7 linked regions of the Homo sapiens genome follow. The protein of the gene in region 7 purifies or fractionates together with the protein of the main gene of each other region. This does not show direct contact. Each region holds a gene or a part of one and is shown on either strand. Other genes may lie near its edges. The genes, in order: NOP58, SDAD1, HAT1, GFPT1, SLX4, PUS7 and NMD3.

What was found.
Region 1: the proteins of NMD3 (region 7) and NOP58 fractionate together in Homo sapiens (co-fractionation; one large-scale study listed by BioGRID). This does not show direct contact.
Region 2: the proteins of NMD3 (region 7) and SDAD1 fractionate together in Homo sapiens (co-fractionation; one large-scale study listed by BioGRID). This does not show direct contact.
Region 3: the proteins of NMD3 (region 7) and HAT1 purify together in Homo sapiens (affinity purification with mass spectrometry; one large-scale study listed by BioGRID and IntAct). This does not show direct contact.
Region 4: the proteins of NMD3 (region 7) and GFPT1 fractionate together in Homo sapiens (co-fractionation; one large-scale study listed by BioGRID). This does not show direct contact.
Region 5: the proteins of NMD3 (region 7) and SLX4 purify together in Homo sapiens (co-immunoprecipitation; one large-scale study listed by IntAct). This does not show direct contact.
Region 6: the proteins of NMD3 (region 7) and PUS7 fractionate together in Homo sapiens (co-fractionation; one large-scale study listed by BioGRID). This does not show direct contact.

What each region holds. Positions count from the first base shown.
Region 1 is NC_000002.12:202,282,763-202,286,262, forward strand, and holds part of NOP58 (nucleolar protein 58), read left to right. Parts: intron 1-1,582; coding exon 1,583-1,719; intron 1,720-3,500. UniProt on the Homo sapiens protein: Required for the biogenesis of box C/D snoRNAs such as U3, U8 and U14 snoRNAs. Part of the small subunit (SSU) processome, first precursor of the small eukaryotic ribosomal subunit.
Region 2 is NC_000004.12:75,980,946-75,984,445, forward strand, and holds part of SDAD1 (protein SDA1 homolog), read right to left. Parts: intron 1,093-3,500; coding exon 988-1,092; intron 601-987; exon of another isoform or gene 526-600; coding exon 427-525; intron 21-426; exon of another isoform or gene 1-20.
Region 3 is NC_000002.12:171,928,961-171,932,460, forward strand, and holds part of HAT1 (histone acetyltransferase type B catalytic subunit), read left to right. Parts: intron 1-3,500. UniProt on the Homo sapiens protein: Histone acetyltransferase that plays a role in different biological processes including cell cycle progression, glucose metabolism, histone production or DNA damage repair. Coordinates histone production and acetylation via H4 promoter binding.
Region 4 is NC_000002.12:69,380,728-69,384,227, forward strand, and holds part of GFPT1 (glutamine--fructose-6-phosphate aminotransferase [isomerizing] 1), read right to left. Parts: intron 2,357-3,500; exon of another isoform or gene 2,279-2,356; coding exon of another isoform or gene 2,197-2,278; intron 1-2,196.
Region 5 is NC_000016.10:3,580,681-3,584,143, reverse strand, and holds the end of SLX4 (structure-specific endonuclease subunit SLX4), read left to right. Parts: intron 1-633; coding exon 634-1,047; intron 1,048-1,450; coding exon 1,451-1,802; 3' UTR 1,803-2,963; downstream 2,964-3,463. UniProt on the Homo sapiens protein: Regulatory subunit that interacts with and increases the activity of different structure-specific endonucleases.
Region 6 is NC_000007.14:105,477,272-105,480,771, forward strand, and holds part of PUS7 (pseudouridylate synthase 7 homolog), read right to left. Parts: intron 1-3,500. UniProt on the Homo sapiens protein: Pseudouridylate synthase that catalyzes pseudouridylation of RNAs.
Region 7 is NC_000003.12:161,224,311-161,227,810, reverse strand, and holds part of NMD3 (60S ribosomal export protein NMD3), read right to left. Parts: intron 2,882-3,500; coding exon 2,747-2,881; intron 565-2,746; coding exon 468-564; intron 1-467. UniProt on the Homo sapiens protein: Acts as an adapter for the XPO1/CRM1-mediated export of the 60S ribosomal subunit.

The sequences.
Region 1 (3,500 bases), on a different chromosome or scaffold from region 7:
TCTAGCCACATTTTTTTCCAACGAAAATGGGGTCCTTATATTTTTTAGAAATATATTTATTAGAAAACTTTTAGTAGGGGTGTATTGCTGGAGATGAAATAAAATGTGAGAGTGGAAAGAAAGACTAGGAAAATAGCCTCCCAAATACAGAAAGCAGAACAATTCGGGCGGGGCGCGGTGGCTCACACCTATAATAATCCCAGCATTTTGGGAGGCCAAGGTAGGAGTATCACGAGGTCAGCAGATCGAGACCATCCTGGCTAACACAGTGAAACCCTGTCTCTACTGAAAATACAGAAAATTAACCGGGTGTGGTGGCAGGCGCCTGTAGTCCCAGCTAATTGGGAGTGCAGTGGCGCAGTCTCACAGCTCACTGCAGACTTGACCTCCTGTTCTCAAGCAATCCTCCCTCTTCAGTAGCTGGGACTACAGGCACATGCCACCATGCTGGCTAATTATTTTATTTTATTTTATTTCATTTATTTGAGACAGAGTCTCACTCTGTTGCCCTGGCTAGAGTGCAGTGGCATGATCTCGGCTCACTGCAACCTCTGCCTCCCGGGTTCAAGGGATTCCCCTGCCTTAGCCTTCCAAGTAGCTGGGATTACAGACGCCCGCCAACACGCCCTGGCCTCCCAAAGTGCTAGGATTACAGGCATGTGCCACCACGCCCAACCTGTAATTTTTTTTTTTTTTTAAGACGGAGTCTCACTCTGTCGCTAGGCTGAAGTGCATTGGCTCAGTCTTGGCTCACTGCAACCTCCGCCTCCTGGGTTGAAGTGATTCTCCTGCCTCAGCCTCCCGAGTAGCTGGGACTATAGGCACCTGCCACCACACCCGGCTAATTTTTGTATTTTTAGTAGAGACGGGGTTTCATCATGTTGGCCAAGATGGTCTCGATCTATTGACCTTGTGATCCACCCGCCTCGGCCTCCCAAAGTGCTGGGATTACAGGCGTGAGCCACCGCGCCTGGCATAACCTGTAATTTTAAAAAGAAGCTAAATAACAGGTAGTAAAAGATCTCCTTAAACCAACTACTTGGTCAAATTATATTAATCTTTTTATAGCTTTTAATTTATATAGCCAAGCTGTCTTCTGGAAGCTTGTATCAGTTTTTACTTCCACCAGTGATACAGTCAAGTATTCTACAAACACACTGGAAATTATGCTTCTTGTCCAACTGAGAAATGCGTATATTTAAATTAGTGCCACTTTAATATTTAGGAAATAATTTCAGGCTGGGCGCGGTGGCTCATGCCTGTAATCCCAGCACTTTGGGAAGATGAGGCGGGCGGATCACTTGAGGTCAGGAGTTTGAGACCAGCCTGTACAACATGGTGAAACCCCGTCTCTACTAAAAATACAAAATTAGCTGGGCATGGTGGCTCATGCCTGCAATAATCCCAGGCCGAGACAGGAGAATCTCTTGAACCCAGGAGGCGGAGGTTGTAGTGAGCCAAGATTGCGCCACTGCACTCCAGCCTGGGCGACAGAGTGATACTGTGTCTCAAAAAATAATAATAACAACTTCAGGAAAGTCTTTTTTTTTTTAATTTAATATAGATGTTCATGTTCTTGTAGGAAAAGCTGAATCTCAGTTGTATCCATAGTCCTGTTGTTAATGAACTTATGAGAGGAATTCGTTCACAAATGGATGGATTAATCCCTGGGGTAGAACCACGTGAAATGGCAGCTATGTGTCTTGGATTGGCTCACAGGTGAGAATTACTGGAAAATAAAGTCAACTTACTTTTATTTGATAAGCGCTTAACATAGATCTGTTCTAAGAATGTTACAAATGCTCATTTGAACCACATCAGAACCTTATGAAGAAGATGATAGTAATATCCTCATTTACAGATGAAACTGAAGCCCAAGGTCAATACAGCTGGTAAGTGGTAAAGCCAGGATTTGAACCCAGGCAGTCTGGCTCTATTGTCTGGATTCTTAAAACCTTAAAACCTCATCAAAGGAATTCTCTACTACTCTGATCTTGGATGCCCTGTTTCTTGGGCTTTCCCTCCTTTATCTCTGCTAAGTCATGCCACTCCTCCATCTACTTAGTATTCCCCCAAATTCTCTCATCTGCTATGGTCTTATGGGATAGGTGTGTATTTGTGTTTTCATTGCTTTACTCTGATTTTTAATAAGGCAAAGAGGACTAGGTGCAGTGGCTCACCCCTGTAATCCCAACTCTTTGGGAGACCAGGAGTTTGAGACTAGCCTGAGCAACATAGCAAGAAATATGTCTCTCTCTGTGTTTTTTTGTTTGTTTTGTTTTTGTTTTGTTTTTTTTGAGGCAGATTCTCACTCTGTCGCCCAGACTGGAGTGCAGTGGCGTGATCTCTGCTCACTGCAGCCCCTGCCTCCCAGGCTCAAGTGATTTTCTTGCCTCAGCCTCCGAGTAGCTAGGATTACAAGCGTGCACCACTACTGCCCAACTAATTTTTGTATTTTTAGTAGAGACGGGCTTTCACCATGTTGGCCTGGCTGATCTTGAACTCCTGACCTCAAATGATCCATCCGCCTTGGCCTTCCAAAGTGCTGGGATTATAGGCATGAGCCACCACACCCGGCATTTTTTTTTTTTTTTTTTTTTTTTTGAGTCAGGGTCTCACTCTGTTGCTCAGGCTGGGGTGCAGTGGTGCGATCTTGGCTCACTGCAACCTGGACATCCTGGACTCAAACAATGCCACCTCAGCCTCCCAAGTAGCTGGGACTGCAAGTGTGCGCCACCATCCCTGGCTGATTTTTTAACTTTTTGTAGAGACGGGGTTTTGCCATGCTGCCCAGGCTGGAACTCCCAGGCTCAAGTGATCCACTTGCCTTAGCCTCCCAAAGTGCCGCGACTGCAGGGGTGAGCCACCATGCCCAGTCTTCTCCCTATTTTTAATTGCATGTTAACCCTATCATATTTCATTAGAAGTCCCTTAGAATAGGCATTATTGCTATGTTGTGATACATCTGTTCATGAAAAGCTTAATACTTTGGAATTGCACTACAGTTAACAGGGTTGTGAAGAAAATAATGGTAGGTAGTTGCTCAAAACCTGTGCAACTTTGTAATCAGTACTGTCAAATAGTAATCCTAATAAAATTATTACCACAGTTCAAAAGACATTTTAAGCTAATATTAAAAGAAACACTACAGGCTGGGCACGGTGGCTCACGCCTGTAATCCCAACACTTTGGGAGGCCAAGGCAGGCAGATCACAAGGTCAGGAGATCGAGACCACGGTGAAACCTCGTCTCTACTAAAAATACAAAAAATTAGCCGGGCACAGTGGCGGGCGCCTGTAGTCCCAGCTACTTGGGAGGCTGAGGCAGGAGAATGGCGTGAACCCGGGAGGCAGAGCTTGCAGTGAGTGGAGATCGCTCCACTGCAGTCCAGCCTGGGTGACAGAGTGAGACTCCATCTCAAAAAAAAAAAAAAAAAAGGGAGAAAGAAACACTATAGGCCAGGCGCAGTGGCTCACGCCTGTAATACATCCCAGCACTTT
Region 2 (3,500 bases), on a different chromosome or scaffold from region 7:
TCAAACTGACTGTCTAATGGGTAAGTTTACTAATTTAAGGCATTATAAAAATGACAAGTTGTGATTAGGATTCTACATGCATATGAGATTTGAATGACTAGAAGAAATCATCTCAAAAGGTTAAAGAGCATCCTGTAGGGTTAGTGTGCTGGAAGAATAGAAAGATCACAGTGTAGCTGAAAACAATATGATATCAGAAACACAGGCTGGAAGCAGATCATGCAGGCACTTTTGAGCCAGGTTATTAAGTTTCCGTTTTACTCTAAGTATAAATGAGAAGCCATAGAAGGATTTTTAGGAAAGGATAATACATTATAATTTACGTTTTCTGAAGATAATTAGCTTAGAGGCTGTTCTCATTTAAATATATATGAACGCAGCACACATGAACACAGCACAATTTATTCATCCAACTACTGGTCCTACCATTCGCAGATCTGGATCCAATACGGTATGATTGCAGGAGAGAAGATCTTTCACCTCTTGAGGAAAATTACTTAGGTACTCTGGGTAGCAGTGACTAATCTGTAACAAAGCAAAGGCTCTTCTGAAGTTGCTCTCTTTCTCTCCTATAATTCAGATGCATACATTTAGGATGTTCTGCAAAACGAGAGTAAAAGGCTATGTTTCATAGAAGTAGATGGTTCCAAACAACCTTCTTTTCCTTCTACATGTTAATTTCTCCAACATTTATCATGGTTTCTCTAGTCTTAGTAATATTTATGGCATGATTTAGTACCTGCTTTTATGATGAATTTGAAGAAAAAAAATAGTCTTAAAGTTTTGTCCTGGTTAGTTATGCAAAAAGATCTAGTGACATTCTCTAACTCATGATAGGGAGAAAATAAAATTTGCAAAAAGGGAAAGTTAGAAAAATATTTTAATTAAGTTCCCATTCCAGAGTGGAATAAGGTTGAGTATTAGTGAAAAAACATTCAGCAAACTGTGTGTTAATACTGGTCTTTATTTAAGCAATTATATTCTTACCTGTGCCATAAACATCACCAGCTCTGCTAGTTCTTTGCTGGGTTTATTTGGTTGCAATTTGAAAATCTCCACATTGGATTTGTAGTGATTATACTGCTGTAGAAACTGCAGAAAAATAAAATTTAAGTTTGTCACATTGTATTACATGACTTTCTCAGTACAGACATTCAGTAGAGAAATTCTTAGTAGAAACTGTTGACGATCACATGGAGAAAAAGATAATGCAAAAGTATATAAAAACACTCCTTTTGCCTTATCTGCATTCTTCAAAGTGCGCTTTTTAAAGACCTGAGCACATCACAGATAATCTAAAGAACTTTTCCTTGGAATTATCACTACAAGTTTAGGCAGCATGGTGTAAGAACAGAGAAGCATGAATCCCAAATTCAGATTGTAGCCCTGTTCTGCCAGTTACTATCTAAATGATCCCGACTGCTGGGTGTAGTGGCTCACACTTGTAATCCCAGCACTTTGGGAGGCCAAAGTGGGAGGATCACTTGAGCCCAGGAGTTCGAGACCAAACTGGGTAACACAGGGAGACCTTGTCTCTACAAAAAATACAAAAATTAGCAGGGTGTGGTGGCGTGCACCTGTAATTCCAGCTACTCAACAGGCTGAAATGGGATGATCACTTGAGCCCAGGGAGGTTGAGACTGCAGTGAGCTATGATCATGCCACTGCACTCCAGCCTAGGCAACACGGAGGCCCTGTCTCACAAAATAAAAATAAAAATAAATGACCCCTACTACCATATCCATGTATGCAGAGCACTCAAATCAGCAGAAAAATAACAGGGCAGAAATATAAATTATATCTCAAGTACATGAAGCTCTCCAGTCAAAATCCCACCCCCCCACTGCCACCCCTTTTTAAAAATTATACTTTTAAGTTCTGGTATACATGTGCAGAATGTGCAGGTTTGTTACACAGGTATACATGTGCCATGGTGGTTTGCTGCACCCATCAACCTGTCATCCACATTAGGTATTTCTCCTAATGCTATCCCTCCCCTAGCCCCCCACCCCAACAGGCCCCAATGTGTGATGTTCCCCTTCCTGTATCCATGTGTCCTCACTGTTCAACTCCCACTTATGAGTGAGAACATGCGGTGTTTGGTTTTCTGTCCTTGTGATAGTTTTCTGAAAATGATGGTTTCCAGCTTCATCCATGTCCCTGCAAGGACATGAACTCATCCTTTTTTATGGCTGCATAGTATTCCATGGTATATATGTGCCATATTTTCTTTATCTAGTCTATCATTGATGGGCATTTGGGTTGGTTCAAAGTCTTTGCTATTGTGAATAGTGCTGCAATAAACATATGTGTACATGTGTATTTACAGTAGAATGATTTATAATCCTTTGGGTATATACCCAGTAATGGGATGGCTGGGTCAAATGGTATTTCTGGTTCTAGATCCTTGAGGAATTGCCACACTGTCTTCCACAATGGTTAAACTAATTTACACTCCCACCAACAGTGTAAAAGAGTTCCTATTTCTCCACATCCTCTCCAGCATCTGCTGTTTCCTGACTTTTTAATGATTGCCATTCTAACTGGCGTGAGATGGTATCTCATTGTAGTTTTGATTTGCATTTCTCTAATGACCAGTGCTGATGAGCTTTTTTTCACTGTTTGTTGGCCGCATAAATGTCTTCTTTTGAGAAATGTCTGTTCATATCCTTTGCCCACTTTTTGATGGGGTTTTTTTTTTCTTGTAAATTTGTTTAAGTTCCTTGTAGATTCTGGCTATTAGCCCTTTGTCAGATGGATAGATTGCAAAAATTTTCTCCCATTCTGTAGGTTGCTTATTCACTCTGATAATAGTTTCTTTTGCTGTGCAGAAGCTCTTTAGTTTAATTAGATCCCATTTGTCAATTTTGGCTTTTGTTGCCATTGCTTTTGGTGTTTTAGTCATTAAGTCTTGCCCGGGCCTATGTCCTGAATGGTATTGCCTAGGTTTTCTTCTAGGGTTTTTATGGTTTTAGGACTCTTGTTTAAGTCTTTAATCCATCTTGATTTAATTTTTGTACAAGGTGTAAGGAAGGGGTCCAGTTTCAGCTTTCTGCATATGGCTAGCCAGTTTTCCCAACACGTTTTATTAAATAGGGAATCCTTTCCCCATTGCTTGTTTTTGTCAGGTTTGTCAAAGATCAGGTGGTTGTAGATGTGTGGCGTTATTTCTGAAGCCTCTGTTCTATTCTATTGGTCTATGTATCTGTTTTGGTACCTTAAAAAAAAAAAAAAAAGACTAGGTCTCCCTCTGTCACCCAAGCTGGACTGCAGTGGCACAATCATAGCTCACTGCCACCTCAAACTCCTGGGCTCAAGAGGTCCTCCTGCCTCAGCCTCCTAAGTAGCTGGGACCACAGACGTTCACCACCATACCCAGCTGATTTTTCATTTTTATTTTTTGTAGAGACGGGATCTCTTTATGTTGCCCAGGCTGGACTCAAACGCCTGGCCTCAAGTGATCCTCTCACCCTGGCCTCCCAAAGTGCTGGGATTACAGG
Region 3 (3,500 bases), on a different chromosome or scaffold from region 7:
GGATTTGCTGGGTCAATAGGGTATTTGTATGTTTAACTTTATGGGATACTTGGCCAGACTGACTTCCAAAGTACTTTTATACTCACATCAACAGTGTATTAGAATTTTCGTTATTCCATATCCTCACCAACATTTTATGTTGTCAGTTTTTAAAGTTTTAGGCATTCTACTGGGTTTATAGTAGTATTTCTTTGTTAATAGTACTTCATAGTGGTTGTAAAGATTAAATAGGTTTTAATTGTCTTTTCCCTCATAACTAATGCTATTAAGGATTGTTTTTTTAATGTGGTTATCGACTATCTCCTTTTGGACTCATGTATTCACATCTTTTGCCCATTTTAAAATTAGGTTATTTGTCTTTTTGTTATTAGTTGTAGGTGTTATTTACCTACATATTCTGGATGAGTCCTTTATGCAGATTACATGTTTTGTGCACATTTTTCTCTCAGTTTGTGGTTTGCCTGTTCATATTCTCAACTTTTTTTGTATAACTGGAAGTTTTTAGTTTTAATCATGTCCAGTTTATTAATTTTAAAAATTTCTATTAGTGTTTTCTGGTTCATGCCTAATATCTTTGTCTACCCCAAGGAGATCATGAAGCTCTCCTAATGTTTTCTTCTGGAAGGTTTTTAGTTTTAGCTTATTAAAATTATGTCCATGATCCATCTCATGTTATTTTTCATGTCCAATATGAGGAAAGGGATTAAGGTTTGTTGTTCCATGTGGATATCCACTTGTTTCAGTATAATTTGTGTGAATGCCTTGGTGCGTTTTTAACAAAAAAATATTGAACTTACACGTGTGGATCTACATCTGGACTTTTCTCATTCATTGTCTGTTTTTCTGTCAATATCGTACTGTCTGGATTAGTGTAACTTTCTATTGATTCCTGGTAGTGTGAGTCCCACATCTTTATTTTTTAAAGATTGTTTCGATTATTCTTGACCTTATTTCTGTATACATTTTGGAATCAGGTGGTTAATTTCTATTTAAAAAGTTCTGACTAATCTTAAGATTACATTGAATCTAAAATTGAATGTGGGGAGAATTGCTATCTTAATAACATTGAGCCTTCCAGTATATGAACATGATGTATTTCTGTATTCTAGAAATGTTTCAGGTTTTCAGTCTTGCATGTATTTTGTTAAATTTATCTGAGTAAATCTACATCTTTTGATTTTTGATGCTCTTAAAAATGGTATACTTTTTTATTTATTTATTTTTGTATGTGTGACATGTTCTCACTTTGTCACCGAGGATGGAGTGCAGTAGCGTGATCTCCACTCACTGCAACCTCTGCCTCCGAGCTCAAGTGATCCTCTTACCACAGCTTCCCGAGTAGCTGGGACTCCGCATACACCACCATGCCTGGCTAATTTTTGTATTTTTTGTAGAGACAGGGTTTCGCCTTGTTACCCAGACTGGTCTTGAACTTCTGGGTTCGAGTGATCTGCCCACCTAGGCCTCCCAAAGTGCTATTACAGATGTGAGCCACTGTGCCTGACCTAAAAATGATATACTTTAAACATTTTCTCTTCCAATTGCTTGTTTTATGTGTGTGCATGTGCATATGCATGGACACACAATGGCACAGTTTGTGTAATTGTTTTGTATTCTGCAACCTTGCTAAATTCACTTATTATTGTAGTTTTTTGTATTCTGGGCTTTTTCTGAGAGAGTGGCTCACTCCATTGCCAAGGCTGGAGTAGAGTGGCGTGATTGTGGCTCACTATAGCCTTGACTTCCCAGGCTCAAGCGAACCTCCCACCTCAGCCTCCTGAATAGCTGGGACTATAGGTGCGTGCCACCATGCTTGGCAAAATTTTTTTTTTTTTCTAGGGACAGGGCCTCACTATATTGCCCATGCTGGTCTTGAACTCCTGGGCTCAAGCAATCCTCTTGCCTCAGCTTCCCAAAGTGCTAGGGTTGCAGACATAAGCCACCACACCCAGCTATAGGATTTTTTTTTTTAGATGTAGATTATTTCAGATTTCCTGCACACAAACATTACCTGTTAATGAAGAAAGTCACAGTTTTTCTTTGCCTTATACAGTTGTCCATTGGTATCTTCAGGGATTTGGTTCCACGATCCCCCGTGAATACCAAAATCTGCCGATGATCCGGTCCATTATACAAAATGCCATAGTGTGGCTGGGCATGGTGGCTCACATCTGTAATCTAGCACTTTGGGAGGTTGAGGCAGGCAGATTGCTTGAGCCCAGGAGTTTGAGACCAGCCTGAGCAACATGGCAGAACCCCATCTCTACAAAAAATACAAGAATTAGCCAGGCATGATGGTGTGCATCTGTAGTTGCTACTCAGGAGGCTGAGGTGGGAGGATCTGCCTGAGCCCAAGAGTTCTAGGCTGCAGTGAGCTGTGATTGTGCCACTGCACTCCAGTGTGAGTGACAGAGTGAGACCCTGTCTTGATAGATAGATAGCCATATAGCCGGGCATGGTGGCTCACGCCTGTAATACCAGCACTTTGGGAGGCTGAGGCAAGAGTTCGAGAAGACAAGCCTGGTCAACATGGTGAAATTCCGTCTCTACTAAAAATACAAAAATTAGCTGGGCGTGATGGCACACACCTGTAATCCCAGCTACTTGGGAGGCTGAGGCAGGAGAATTGCTTGAGCCCAGGAGGTGGAGGTTGCAGTGAGCCGAGATTGTGCCACTGCACTCCAGCCTGGGCGACAAAGCAAGACTGTGTCTCGGGGGGGAAAAACAGCCATATAGTACAGTCAGCTCTTTGTATCTGCAGATTCTGTGTTTGAGGATTCAGCCAATCTCATGTTGATCCGTAATTGGTTGAATCAGTGGATGTGGAACCTGCATATGTGGAGAGCCACTTGTGTTTCATTTTCTTGCCTTACTGCACTGGCCAGAACCTCTATTACAATGTCAAATGGAAGTGATAGAGTAGACATCCTTGCCTTATTCCCAATTGAAGAAGGAAAATTTTGAGCCTTTCACCATTCACTATGATGTTAGCTGTAGGTTTTTCATATGTGCCCTTTATCAGGTTGAGGAAGTTTCCTTCTATTCCTAGTTTGGTGAGAGTTTTTATTATGAAAGTGTTACCTTCTAATGCTTTTTCTTTATCAAGATAATCATAAGATTTTTCTCCTTTAATTCTGATAATGTGGTGAATTACATTGATGAGGTTTTAAGTGTTAAATTAGCCTTGCATGCCAGTATATTATCCTTTTTCTGCTTTGCTAGATTTGACTTGGCAATGTTTTGTTAAGACTCTTTGTTCATGACAGGTAATGGTTTCTTTTTTCATACGTCTTTGCTTGATTTTGGTATCAAGGTTTCCTGGCCTCATAAAATGAGTTGGGAACTGTTTCTTCTCTATCTTCTGGAAGAATTTGTATAAGACTGCATTATTCCTTTAAATGTTCAGTAGCATTCACCAGTGAAGTTTTATGTGCCTTGAGTTTTCTTTGTTGGAAGGTTTTTAACTATACATCTAATAAATAGATTTAATACTGTTCTGA
Region 4 (3,500 bases), on a different chromosome or scaffold from region 7:
CTGACTCCTAGTCTCTGAGCATCTCTACACTGAACTATGACAGCCAAGGAGAACTCATCTATCCTATCCATTTCGGTCCACTTTCGGATGGGCCCTCCGAACTGCTGACCAATCCTATTAATTCATCACTTGCTTAACTTTCAAACTTCTCCCAGATATTATTTTAGAGTCTAAGCTACATACTACTCTCAAATCCTCATTTTCTCTTCCCAGCTTCTTTTTCATTTTTGGTAGATTCTTACTTTATAGAATTAAAGTCTTTTTTTTTTTTAGACAGAGTCTCGTTCTGTCACCCAGGCTGGAGGGCAGTGGCGCTATCTCAGCTCACTGCAACCTCCACCTCCTGAGTTCAAGCGATTCTCCCGCCTCAGCCTCTTGAGCAGCAGCTGGGATTACAGGCGTGTGTTACCACGCCTGGCTAATTTTTGTATTTTTAGCAGTGACAGGGTTTCACCACGCTGGCCAGGCTGGTCTCGAACTCCTGACCTCAGGTGATCTGCCCGCCTCGGCCTCCCAAAGTGCTGGGATTATAGGCGTGAGCCACTGCGCCTGGCCAGAATTAAAGTCTTCATTTTCTTTTTTTGTTTTTAAAATATAGAGACAAGGTCTCAATATGCTGTCCGGGCTGGTATCAAACTCCAAGCCTCAAGTGATCCTCCCACCTCAGCCTCCCAAAATGCTGAGTTCACAAGCATGAGTCACTGCCCCTCACCCATCTTCTTTTCAACAGTTTAACAATATATAAATACTTCTCATCCTTCCTTGTAATCTCAAGAGAGACATATTACACATACTACTCTCTGAAGCTAGCCTCTCCCCTACTTGTAACTTTTTTTTTTTTTTTTAACAGTCCTGCTCTGTCACCCAGTACCCAGGCTGGAGTGCAGCAGCACAATCATAGCTCACTGCAGCCTCAAACTCCTGGACTCAATCCTCCCACCTCAGTCTTCTAAGTAGACTGGACTACAGGTATGCACCACCATGCCTGGCTAATTTTTTTTTTTTTAATAGAGATGGGATCTCACTATGTTGCCCGGGCTGATCTTGAACTCCTAGCGTCAAGCAATCCTCCTGCCTCAGCTTCCTGAGTGGCTGGGATTACAGGTGTAAGCCAAAACACTGGCTACTTATAACTCTTTTTTTTTTTTTTAATTGAGACAGAGTGTCACTCAGTCACCCAGGCTGGGGTACAGTGGCGTGTTCTCAGCTCACTGCAACCTTCACCTCCCAGGTCCAAGCACTTCTCCTCCCTTAGCCTCCCAAGTAGCTGGGATTACAGGTGCGTACCACAACAGCTGGCTAATTTTTGTATTTTTAGTAGAGATGGGGCTTCGCTATGTTGGCCAGGCTGGTCTCAAACTCCTGACCTCAAGTGATTCGCCCACCTCAGCCTCCCAAAATGCTGGTATTACCAGAGGGAACCCCACACTGGGCCTTACTCCTAACTCTTGATGAGTGTTTCTCCAACTTTGTAAATACAGAACTCTTTTGTTAACATCAAAATATTCTGAGGCTCCTTCACAACAATGGGTTAAATTTTTATTATTCAATGATCTAGAACAATCTTTATTCAACTTACAGACAAAGTTATAAGCATATGAATAAGCAATGAACACCCTGTAACAACTTCAGGGCTTGTAGGTCAGGAACCACAGCTCTAGAATTCAACTTCTCAACACTCCCAGGGGACCTCAATCCCAAAATCCTCTTCTTTTTCATATTACTTGCAGCCCTCCTCCTAAACACAAACTGAGACCCTTCTGCCTTGACATATGCAATTTCTCTAATAATTTCTTCATAACCATATCCAATTAACTTCTCTGCAGTATTACATATGAATGACCTTTTTCTACTTTTATAGACTCTGTTCAAGGCAATATACTACTTTGGAACTCTTCTGCCTTTAACCACTGTTCCTTGGTCTGTTTTCCTGGCACTTCTATTTCCTCCTTCATCTGGTAGTAGTTCTCAAACTATTTCCGCCTCCATTCACTGACGGTTAACATATGCCATTAATGATTACCTCTCACAGTATACTAATACTCTACAAGTTGAGTAAAAGTCCTGCCCCATCACCCAGAACATTCCTGAACCTAACACAGAAACCCAAACCCCAGAGCTCTCCAGTCTCTAAATTTCTACTCATTCTACTTGTGGTCTATGACATGGCAATGAACAAGGACTGTGTATTTTCACCTGAAGCTGTTGCATGTGCATTCATTTTCTTTCCTCTGATCAGGCAGCAATTTCTTGAAGGCAACTCTCTTATTTTAGTCATCTCTGCAAAGGGCAGAGTGCCAAGTATAAAGCCATCATTTCAAATACCTGCAAGTATCTTCTAACACTTTCTAGGCACCTGAAATATACGGTCAAAAAATTCTCAAACCACAGAAACAGAACACTATTTCACCGGATGCTAAAAAGGAATGAAGTAAAGAAAGGTTTCATAATTAAAGGTTTAAGAACTACCTGGTTAAAGTTAGGTATATATTTAGAACTTTCTGGAACCTTTAATCTTGCTAATTGTGAATCTCCAAGAGCAGAATTTCCCAAACTTGTGTTACAAAACCCTTTCCCGCCTTCTACTGCTCATTACCAGAACCTATTAACCTCCATTTCCAGGGGACAATTGAAGAAATGCTTATTAAGCAATTATTTTCTCTCACAACTTCTTCATATCCAGTATATGTAAGGATATGTTAATAGTACTGGTTTTATGACCAATCCTAGCAGCCAATCTCAGCATCCCTCAATTATCTCCAAAGCCATTAGACAGTATAATTACAAAAAACTTTTGAAAAATTCATTTTAGGATACTTTAAAATTGCAAGTTCCTTTACTGCTTTTAAAAAGGATCTCATTTGCAAACATTCCATTTATTTATTTATTTATTTACTTATTTATTTATTTATTTTGAGACAGTCTCTCACTCTTGTCGCCCAGGCTGGAGTAGAATGGCACTATCTCAGCTCACTGCAACCTCCACCTCCTGGGTTCAAGAGATTCTCCTGCCTCGGGCTTCCGAGTAACTAGGATTACAGGCATGCGCCACTACGCCCGGCTAATTTTTTTGGATTTTTAGTAGAGACAGGGTTTCACCATGTTGGTCAGGCTGGTCTCAAACTCCTGACCTCAGGTGATCCACCCACCTCAGCCTCCCAAAGTGCTGGGATTGCAGGCGTGAGCCACCGCGCCCATCCCCAAAATTCCATTTTATATACACCGTCGAATCAGAAGGGTATAACTTCACATTTATAAAAACAATAGCAAAATCTGTTAAAAGCTAGGGATAGCTTAAGTGACTTGACACTCAGCAAAACCAAAAATAATGCAAATAAAAAGGACAAAGTATATTCCAAACTACCAAGAAAAAGGAAGATAAAATAAATTTGGAAAATAGACACACTATTCTTCTCTGGGAGATTCTCAATGCTTATTATTAATACATTAAAGATTCCAAGAAATCCTCCAATCAAAAAACAAAACAAAACATTACCACG
Region 5 (3,463 bases), on a different chromosome or scaffold from region 7:
GCGGAGGCCTGATTTTTTTTAAAAGAACATTTAACTCTCACATCCACATGACACTGCTCTTCCACTCGGGCACCCGGGGAAGCTGCTGCTGCCACCATCCCTCAGAACTGGGAGCAGCATATCTTTTGTTTATTTTTTATTTTTGGAGACAGGATCTCACTCTGTTGCCCAGGCTGGAGTAGAGTGATGTGATCTTGGCTCACTGTAGCCTCAGCCTCCCGGGCTTAAGCGATCCTACCTCATCCTCCCTAGTAGCTGGGACTACAGGTGACACCACCACGCCTGGCTAATTTTTGTATTTTTTGTAGAGGCGGGGTCTTGCTATGTTGCCCAGGCTGGCCTTGAACTCCTGAGCTCAAACTGTCCTCCTGCCTCAGCCTCCCAAAGTGCTGGGATTGTAGGCGTGAGCCATTGTGCCTGGCTGGCAATGTTTCTTTTGGAATATTCAGAGTAAGCTTAGTTGGCGCCTAGAATAGACACTAACCTCTGATGCTCACAGAAGTCAGGCATCTATGGTTTGTCACACAAGCCATTCGCTGAATGCATTGGGTATCACTCTTTGCTAAGATAGGGAACGTGGAGTGTGGACCAGCTGTGTGGGTGGGTCCTGAGATCCACCTGTTCCTCCGTCAGGTTTGGAGTCCGCCCTCTGCCTAAACGCCAGATGGTTCTGAAGCTGAAGGAGATATTCCAGTACACTCACCAGACCCTGGACTCAGACTCCGAGGACGAGAGCCAGTCCTCACAGCCGCTGTTGCAGGCGCCTCACTGCCAGACCCTCGCCTCCCAGACCTACAAGCCTTCAAGGGCAGGGGTCCATGCCCAGCAGGAGGCCACCACAGGACCTGGGGCCCATAGGCCCAAGGGACCTGCTAAGACCAAGGGCCCCCGACATCAAAGGAAGCATCATGAAAGCATCACACCCCCAAGCAGGTCGCCCACCAAGGAGGCACCTCCAGGCCTCAATGATGACGCCCAGATCCCAGCCTCTCAAGAATCCGTGGCCACCTCTGTGGATGGCAGTGACAGCTCCTTGAGCTCACAGAGGTAACCGGATGGATGCGATGGGGTCAGTGGCCTCATGTATCCTCTGGCCCGTGGGCGTGAGGGTTGGCACGAGTGAGACCTAATGGCCAATCTTCAAAAACCCCCGTCACCTTCTGGGTTTGACCTGTGGGAAAACCAGGTGGGTTTAGGGGGCTGGTTCCCTGACCCCAGCCCTGCGCAGGCCTCCTGGTTCCTGCCCCACATGCTAGACATTTCTGGCTGGGGCAGGATCCCGCTGGCGTAGCCTGCAGGGATCTCTCAGGCCCGTCCTGCCTTGCTGGGGATCGTGCCACAGGCCAGGCTCCATGGGACCCGTAGACACCTTCCTTCCTTTAAAGAGGCTCATGGTCTCAGGGGCTGGAGAGAAAGGGGTTGCACAACGTCCTGGTCTGGCTCTTTTCAGTTCTTCCTCCTGTGAGTTTGGAGCGGCATTTGAGTCTGCAGGTGAAGAGGAGGGCGAGGGGGAGGTCAGTGCCTCGCAGGCAGCCGTGCAGGCGGCGGACACAGACGAGGCGCTGAGGTGCTACATCCGCTCCAAGCCGGCCCTGTACCAGAAGGTGCTGCTGTACCAGCCCTTTGAGCTGCGGGAGCTGCAGGCAGAGCTGAGGCAGAACGGCCTCCGTGTGTCCTCGCGCAGGCTGTTGGACTTCCTGGACACCCACTGTATCACCTTCACCACTGCCGCCACCCGCAGGGAGAAGCTCCAGGGCAGGAGGCGGCAGCCTCGGGGCAAGAAGAAGGTGGAGCGGAACTGATGGGGCCATCCCGACCCCACCCCAACCTGCCATCAGCAGCCCCCACCCCCGCCATTTGCAGGGAGGACCTGGGACACCCAGCGTGGGTCAGGCCTCCACAGGCATTTCTGGGCCTGGGGACCACATCAGCTCTGCGCTGTGATGATGACCACAGCCCAATCCAGGGCTTCCTCCTCTGGGCTCTGCTTTCTAGGGTGGCATTTGGAGCATGTCACCCACTGGATTTACAGACTCCAGCCCCTTCCTCTGTCCGTGCTCACAGTGTGTCTCCCTTTTTGGTTTTCTTTTTTTTTTTCTTTTTGAGACAGTCGTGCTGTGTCACCTAGGCTGGAGTGCAGTGGCACAATCTCGGCTCACTGCAACCTCCGCCTCCCGGGTTCAAGCAATTCTCCTGCCTCAGCCTCCCAGATAGCTGGGACTACAGGCACACGCTGCCACGCCCAGCTGATTTTTTATATTTTAGTAGAAACGGGGTTTCACCATGTTGCTCAGGCTGGTCACAAACTCCAGAGCTCAGGCAATCCGCCTGCTGCGGCCTCCCAAAGTGCTGGGATCACAGGCGCCAGCCACTGCGCCCGGCCCAGTGTGTCTCCCTTAACCCAAGAGGGCCCTCAGCTGTCCCAGGGGGCAGTGGGCCATCACCAGCTGGCCAGGGCATGGCCTATTCTGCCACATTTGCCACCCTCTGAGCCCACCAGTCCTGGGCACAGCTGCCCTACATGTCTGTCCTGAGATGGACGTCAGGTCCAGCCTGCCCCGGCAGCCCGGGCCCGTCCTCCTCAGCACTCAGGCCAACCCCAGCCACCGCCAGCCTGAGACCAGGTGTCCTGAGGCTCCCTGCACTGCCACAGCCCAGATGCAGTTCTCCTGACCCAGCCGTGCTACCCGGACACTTGTCATTGTTACCAGCAGTCTCCAAACTGGACAGTGCACAAGGGCCCAGAACAACTCTGATGCCACCACAAAACAAACATGTTCACTAGCGGATTCCATTCTTTGGGTTAAAGCTGCCTCCAGCCTCAGGAGCAGTGTGGAGGAAGATGAGGGCCAGGAAAGAAGGAAACCTTGGTTTCTCCATCCTTGTGAATGTCCTCGTCTGTTTCAAATACAGTGCAGTCAGTTTTATATGATGTGCAATAAACCAAAAAGGCTTTATTAAAATCTGGCTGCCACACTCCAGGGAGACCACGAGCGAAACGGGGGACCTGGAGGCACCGTGGCCCCTCAGCCCGTGCCCCACGCCTGCAGAAGTCCCCACCTTGCACCTGCCCTTTACTTTGGAGTAACCTGGGCCTGCTGTCTCCTCATTTCAGTTCCCAGACCAGAGATGCAGATGTTCATCCATTAATCCACACACCCGTATCCAACAGAGCCCTGGCTGGGTGCCAAGCTCCAGCCCCCGCACCTCAAAGTGGGGCCCAAGCACCCCCAGCTGCTGCCTCAGCCGGGAGTTGCTACAAAAGCAGATTCAGGCCCCACCCCACAACTCACCAAGACAGCACATGCCTTTACCATTGCGTCCGGTCCAGTGGAGGAGACAGACGCTGGCCTATCCCAGCCTGGTGGGGAGTCGGGCTCCAGTGGCTTGAAGGGCCGTGTCAGGGACAGCCTCCCAGAAGAGGGGTTTGTGAGCTGCATCTTAGGGCTCAGCAGCATTTAGG
Region 6 (3,500 bases), on a different chromosome or scaffold from region 7:
CAGTTTCACTCTGTCGCCCAGGCTGGAGTGCAGTGGTACAATCTTGGGTCACTTCAACCTCTGCCTCCCGGGCTAAAGCAATTCTCCTGCCTCAGCCTCCCGAGTAGCTGGGATTACAGGTGTTCATGCCACCACACTCAGATAATTTTTGTATTTTTAGTAGAGGCGGGATTTCACTATGTTGGCCAGGCTGGTCTTGAACTCCCGACCTCAAGCAATCCGCCACCCACCTCGGCCTCCCAAAGGGCTGGGATTACGGGCGTGAGCCACTGTGCCTGGCTCACTTTCTTTTTTTCAAAGTTTTTGCTGAGTTATTCAATAATTCACATAACATATAATTCACCCATGTAAGTGTACAATTCAATGGCTTTTAGTATTTTTAAAGAACTGTGGAGCATTACACAATTTTACAACATTTTTATTACCCACCCCCACCAAAAAAAAATCCTGTCCCATTAGTAGTCACTCCCCATTGGTCCTGTTCCAGCTCTTTTTCTATAGATTTGCTCACATTGGAAATTTCATAGAAATTGATTCATTCATTCATTCACAGGCAGGGTCTTGCTCTGTCATCTAGGCCACAGTGCAGTGGTGGTACACTGTTCACTGCATCCTCAAACTCCTGGGCTTCAGTGATCCTCCTGCCTCAGCCTCCTGAGTAGCTAGGACCAAAGCCAGGCAGCAGCACACTCAGCTAATTTTTTAAAAATTTTATTTTGTAGAGATGGGGCCTTGCTATGGTGCCCAGGCTGGTCTTGAACTCCTGGCCTCAAGTGATCCTGCCGCCTTGGCCTCTTAAATTGTTGGGATTACAGGCATGAGCCCCTGTGCCCTGCCTACTTAGCAATGTTTTCAAGGTTCATTCACGTTGCAGAATGTATCAGTACTTCATTCCTTTTTATTGCTAAGTAATATTCCACTGTATATTATTGTATATTACATTGTATATTTTGTTTATCCATTCATCAGTAGGTGGACATTTGGGTTGTTTCCAGTCTTTTGGCTGCTATGAACATCTGTATAAACTTTTGTGTGAACATATGATTTTCAGTTGTCCTCAGTATATACCTAGAAATGCCTGGGTCATAGGCTAACTTTATAACCTTTTGAGGAACTGTCAGACTATTTTCCAAAATCGTTATACCATTTTACATTTCCACCAGGAATGTATAAGGGTTCCAATTTCTCTAATCCTAACACTTGTTATTCTCTGCCTTTTTTATTTTAGCCATCCTAGTGGGTAAGAAGTGGCATCTCACTGTGGTTTTGATTTGCATTTCCTAAAGATTAGTGATAAGCATCTTTTTGTGTGCTTATTGGCCATTTGATTACATTATTTAAAGAAAGGTCTGTTCAGACCCTTTGCTAAGTTTTAGAATGCGTTGTCTTTCTGTTCTTGAGTTGTAAGAGCTTTTAATATTTTGGATACAAGTCATTTCTCCACCTATACAATATAAACTGAAAGTCTGTTTTTTCCCTCAGGAAATTCTATGGTGTTAACAGTGCGTTTCCTTGAAAGCAGGAAATATTCTTATGTTGTGAAAATGAATGATTTGGAATTTTGAGCTGACCGTACTGACCTTTGGTCACGCTATGTAATTTTTGTTGTGGGATAAATTTGACCTCATTTTAATTACTTATATTTATTTACACTATCTTTGGCATACACAACGTATAGGATTCCATGGCTGTCCTTCTGCCAAATTAATTACAAATTTACAGGTTGATACAGTGCTCCCTTATTCTGTCCCATAATACAATTAGCATTTTTACTATTTTATCAATGTCCTCTGACCATTAGCAAGGTTGAAAACATATTAGCAATCACTATATTCTAGGCATAAAAATAGATGTAGCATAAACATCATCTCACTTCATTTTCACCATTCTGTGAATTGGTATTATTATCTCCATTCTACAGATGAGTAATTTAAGCCTCAGAACTCAAGTCTGTTTTCACCTGAGCTTTTTAACCTCCTCAAAGAGGCAGAGGAAATATAGATTTTTATCATTTTGCGCTTTTAAAATCACAAAAATGAATGCAACTTCATAGTTTAGATGCTGAAACAATGGACTGGAAGCCCGGAAAACTCTACTCCCAAACTAAAGCCAAGCAATTGATGAGTTCAGGCAGACCTCTCAAAGCCTAAGTTTGCTAACATGAAGGGTCTGAAAGACAAGGAAGAACATGGACGCTTAGATAACTTCCAGCTTGTAACTACCACAATTCTAACTCCCACGCGAATAATTAGTTTATGTAACAGAGTCTCTGCTGGGCAACAGGATTCCAGAAGTAGATTTAGGAACCCAACTATTTATTGATGGGATTCCCACTGTAGGTTACCCTAGAGGGGTTCTTAATTGTTTAAAAGTAAATGACAATTCTTAAATTCCATGTCACTAATTTTATCATTTATTACATTCTTTAAAGAGTGAGGGAAGGGGCCCAGGCACAGTGGCTCATGCCTGTAATCCCAGCACTTAGGGAGGCCAAGACGGGCAGATCACTGGAGGTCATGAGTTCGAGACCAGCCTGGCCAACATGACAAAACCTCGGCTCTACTAAAAATACAAAAATTAGCTGGGTGAGGTGGTGCATGCCTGCAATCCCAGTTACGTGGGAGGCTGAGGCAGGAGAATCACTTGAACCTGGGAGGTGGAGGTTGCAGTGAGCGGAGATGGCACCACTGCACTCCAGCCTGGGCAACAGCAAGACTTCATCTCAAAAAATAAAAATAAAAAATAAAATAAAATTAAGAGCGAGGGAAGGGCAGATCAAAGTTTAATAAACGTGTTAACACAGATCAGAAAATGTGACATCTCTGTCTGGCTACTCTGGGTCTGAGTTACCCAACAGATTACTGTTGAATCACTTACTGAGCCAAGACTTACCTGTTACAAAATAAAAATAAAAATAGGGCTGGGCGTAGTGGCTCACACTTGTAATCCCAACACTTTGGGAGGCTGAGGTAGGCGGATCATTTGAGGTCAGGAGTTCAAGACCAGCCTGGCCAACATGGTGAAATTCCCGCCACTACTAAAAATACAACAAAGTTAGCTGGATGTGGTGGCAAAAGCCTGCAATCTCAGCTACTTGGGATGCCGAGGCAGGAGAATTGCTTGAACCTGGGAGGTGGAGATTGCAGTGAGCCAACATTGCACCACTGTACTTCAGCCTGAACAACAAAGATTCCATCTCAAAAAAATAAAAAATAAAAAAAATAGCTGGGTGTGGAGGCTCATGCCTGTAATCCCAGCAGTTTGGGAGGCTGAGGTCGGGGGATCACCTGAGGTTGGGAGTTCGAGACCAGCCTGACCAACATGGAGAAACCCCATCTCTACTAAAAATGCAAAATTAGCCAGTCATGGTGGCGCATGCCTGTAAACCCAGCTACTCAGGAGGCTGAGGCAGGAGAATCACTTGAACCTGGGAGGCAGAGGATGCGGTGAGCCGAGATTGCGCTATTGCACTCCAGCCTGGGCAACAAGGGCGAAACTCT
Region 7 (3,500 bases):
CTTTAAAAAGTGTTTGTAGTGGGGTGCTACTGGCAACAATAGTAACATTTAATAGTTACTTTCGAGGCCAGCATGGTGGCTCACGCCTGTAATCCCAGCACTTTGGGAGGCCGAGGCAGGCAGATCACGAGGTCAGGAGTTCGAGACCAATCTGGCCAACATAGTGAAACCCTGTCTCTACTAAAAATACAAAAAATTAGCCAGATGTGGTGGTGTGCGCCTATAATCCCAGCTACTTGGGAGGCTGAGGCAGGAGAATCGTGTGAACCCGGGAGGCAGAGGTTGCAGTGAGCCGAGATCACACCATTGTACTCTAGCCTAGCCCAGGTGACAGTTCAAGACCCCACCTCAAAAAAAAAAAAAAAAAAAAAAATTCCTTTTGAAAAACCTACTCACAAGAATTTTCTGAAAATGAGACCTTTAATGAAAACATACCTATGAATACTGATTTTAGCTGTTTAACTTACCTTACTCAGAGGGGCTTTGATTTTTTTCAAGCACAAAGCAAGAAGTTCCCTGGATTCTAAAGCACACTGTATCCAAGTTCCTGGTGGTTGAAAATACCTAAAAGAGAAGATAACATACTGAAATCCAACATCTGTCAGGAAACACAGAAATTTCCATCTGAATACACAGATATAACCCAAATTATTAACCAGGCATAATAAAACCCAAGGATGATATGAAGCACTTAACTCAAACATATTTTAATGGTTCCAAAACTTTCAACTAGACTAGCAGCTTTAATTAAAAAGGTAAAATTCTGACTGAGAAAGTCAATCTGAAATAACCTACTAAAGTGATCTTATTACTTTAATCACCAAATCACCACTAAAATGTCCAAGAGTCTCTTAAAGCTATGCTCTGAAAAACAGGTGAGAATCATCTCAAAATGGCATTAAAATGGTTTATTATGTACTTCTAAAATGCCTGAGAACTGCTTATTTTTCACAAAAAAAAGGTACATTAGTACCTCACAACACTATAAATCAGCAATAGTTCAGTCTATTCATCTACATTTCAAGTCCTTTTCAAATTGTAAATTGTAAAACAACATTTAAAATCTTGGGTAAAACCAGACTAAAACAAAACTTAAATCTCTTACATATGTGCTTTAAGGTTTTTAGTCCTGCCTACCCAGGACTTAGCACTATGCCACATACATCTTATAGTAGGTGTTCAATAAATGCTTGCTAAATATAAAATACTTCCAAACATGTTATGTGAATGTCTTTTTGCCATACTTGTTACATAACAGAAAGTTTTGACTTTCACTTTTCAAGGTTCAATCAAAAACATTACACAGGTCTCCCTTTGTTTATAAGTACATATTTATTTCGTATTTTTTTTTCCTTTTTTCTTTTGAGACAGAGTCTCGCTCCATCCCCCAGGATGGAGTGCAGTGTATGATCTCGGCTCACTGCAACCTCTGCCTCTCGGGTTCAAGCGATTCTCCTGCCTCTCGAGTAGCTAGGATTACATGCGTGCCCCACCACGCCTGGCTAATTTTTGTATTTTTAGTAGAGACAGGGTTTCACCATGTTGGCCAGTCTGGTCTCGAACTCCTGACCTCAGGTGATCCACCCGCCTCAGCCTCCTCAAGTGCTTGGATTACAGGCGTGAGCCACCAAGCCTGGCCTATGAGTAAACGTTTAGAGTTAGAAAGGGCTTCACATATCACCTAATAAAACCCTTCATTCTGATGAGGAAATTGAGGCCCAGAGATGATAAACAGCTAAGAGTTTCAAACAGCTAGTTTGTGAGGAAGCCAAGACAAACTAAGTCTGTTTAGTTCTTTATCAGTACTTTTCTAACTCCACCAGGCTTTTAATAGCAAATATTTATAAAAGATTAAGCCTCACACTTGCTAAGCTTATACACTGTAAACTCCCTGAAACAGTACACAGTTTCATGTGTTTGTGTATATATATGTATATATACACACACACACATATATATTTTTACATATATACACACACACACACATATATATACATGTATGTAAATATTTTGGGGAAGAGATACAGTTTTCAAATTCTCAAAGGAGTCCATGAACCACCCCTCTAGAGATACACACTCAAAAAGTTAGCGTCTTAATCCATTTTGGAAATAACAGGCATACACTTTTACACTCATTAGGCAGTTTTGTGTTACTCAATGGCCTAATAGATGTAAGTTGTTTATGCTGACAAAGAAAATCAAGAGGAATGAAACATTAACATTCAGAAGAAGTCTTCTTCCTTCAAATCCAATCTTTATTTCAGACCATTCCAGATATAATTTATTGAGCTTCTTTTCCATCAACAATAGTTATTTTAATTACACGTGAATGTTATGAGTTTTTAAAACATATTACTAAATTACTCCAAACATAAGCTTTTTATCATACATGGCTTCTAATAACTAAAGAAAAAAAAACCTCATAATAACAATATGTCCTCAATAATCTGCTCTCACCCTTACAAACATCAACTCCTATTAACTATATACATCAAATCTATTAGATCCTTTAACAGAAGAACAGATTCAAATACATTTACACTATCTTTACCAGATTAGAAGGACACACTAGAAAAGTACACTATAAAATTGCAAATTCTAAAATCTTTGGCGACACCAACAGAAAATTTAAACCTTAATTGCATGCACTTTACTCCATATACCTTCGTGTAATCTCAGCATATCTCGGTGGTTCTCTAAATGTAAATTCCAACTTTAAAAAGAGCAAAATTGTACCGCACTGTACCTTTGACATTGTTTGCAGAACGAAATCGAGACTTGTTTCGGAATACCTTGGCTGATGTCCACTTTACTTCGCAAACAGGCCACACAAATATTGGCAGGATTTGGACTTATCGGAACACCACACTCACAGCACAAGCTTTAATAAATAAAGGATAAATTTTTCACATTAGATTTTTAAAATACACTAAATTTTTTTTTAGATGCCAAACAAACAAAAGCCTTCAAGTTAGGCCACAGCATCTTTGCCCTTTTCAAAAAAATAACAGAAACAAAGCAACCTGGGCCAGCCAGTGGCTCACACCTGTAATTCCAGCACTTTGGGAGGCTGAGGCGGGTAGATCACCTGAGATAAGGAGTTCAAGACCAGCCTCGCCAACATGGTGAAACCCCATCTCTACTAAAAATACAAAAATTAGCCAGGCATGGTGGCGCACGCCTGTAATCCCAGCTACTTGGGAGGCTGAGGCATGCATATCAAACCCAGGAGGTGGAAGTTGCAGTGAGCCAGATCACGCCACTGCACTCCAGCCTGGGTGACAGACCAAGACAATGTCTCAAAAAAAAGAAACAAAAAAAAGAAACAAAGCAATCTTCAAAGATGCAGTAGATAAAGAATAACCCTGTAATACAGGGGCAAAAACACCAAAAATGGCTATAATTCTAAAAATCCTCAATATAAGGCCGATGTCCTAAAGGTTCTAGAAGGTCAGTACTGTCCAACAGAATTTCATGCCACGACAGAAATGTTCTATTCT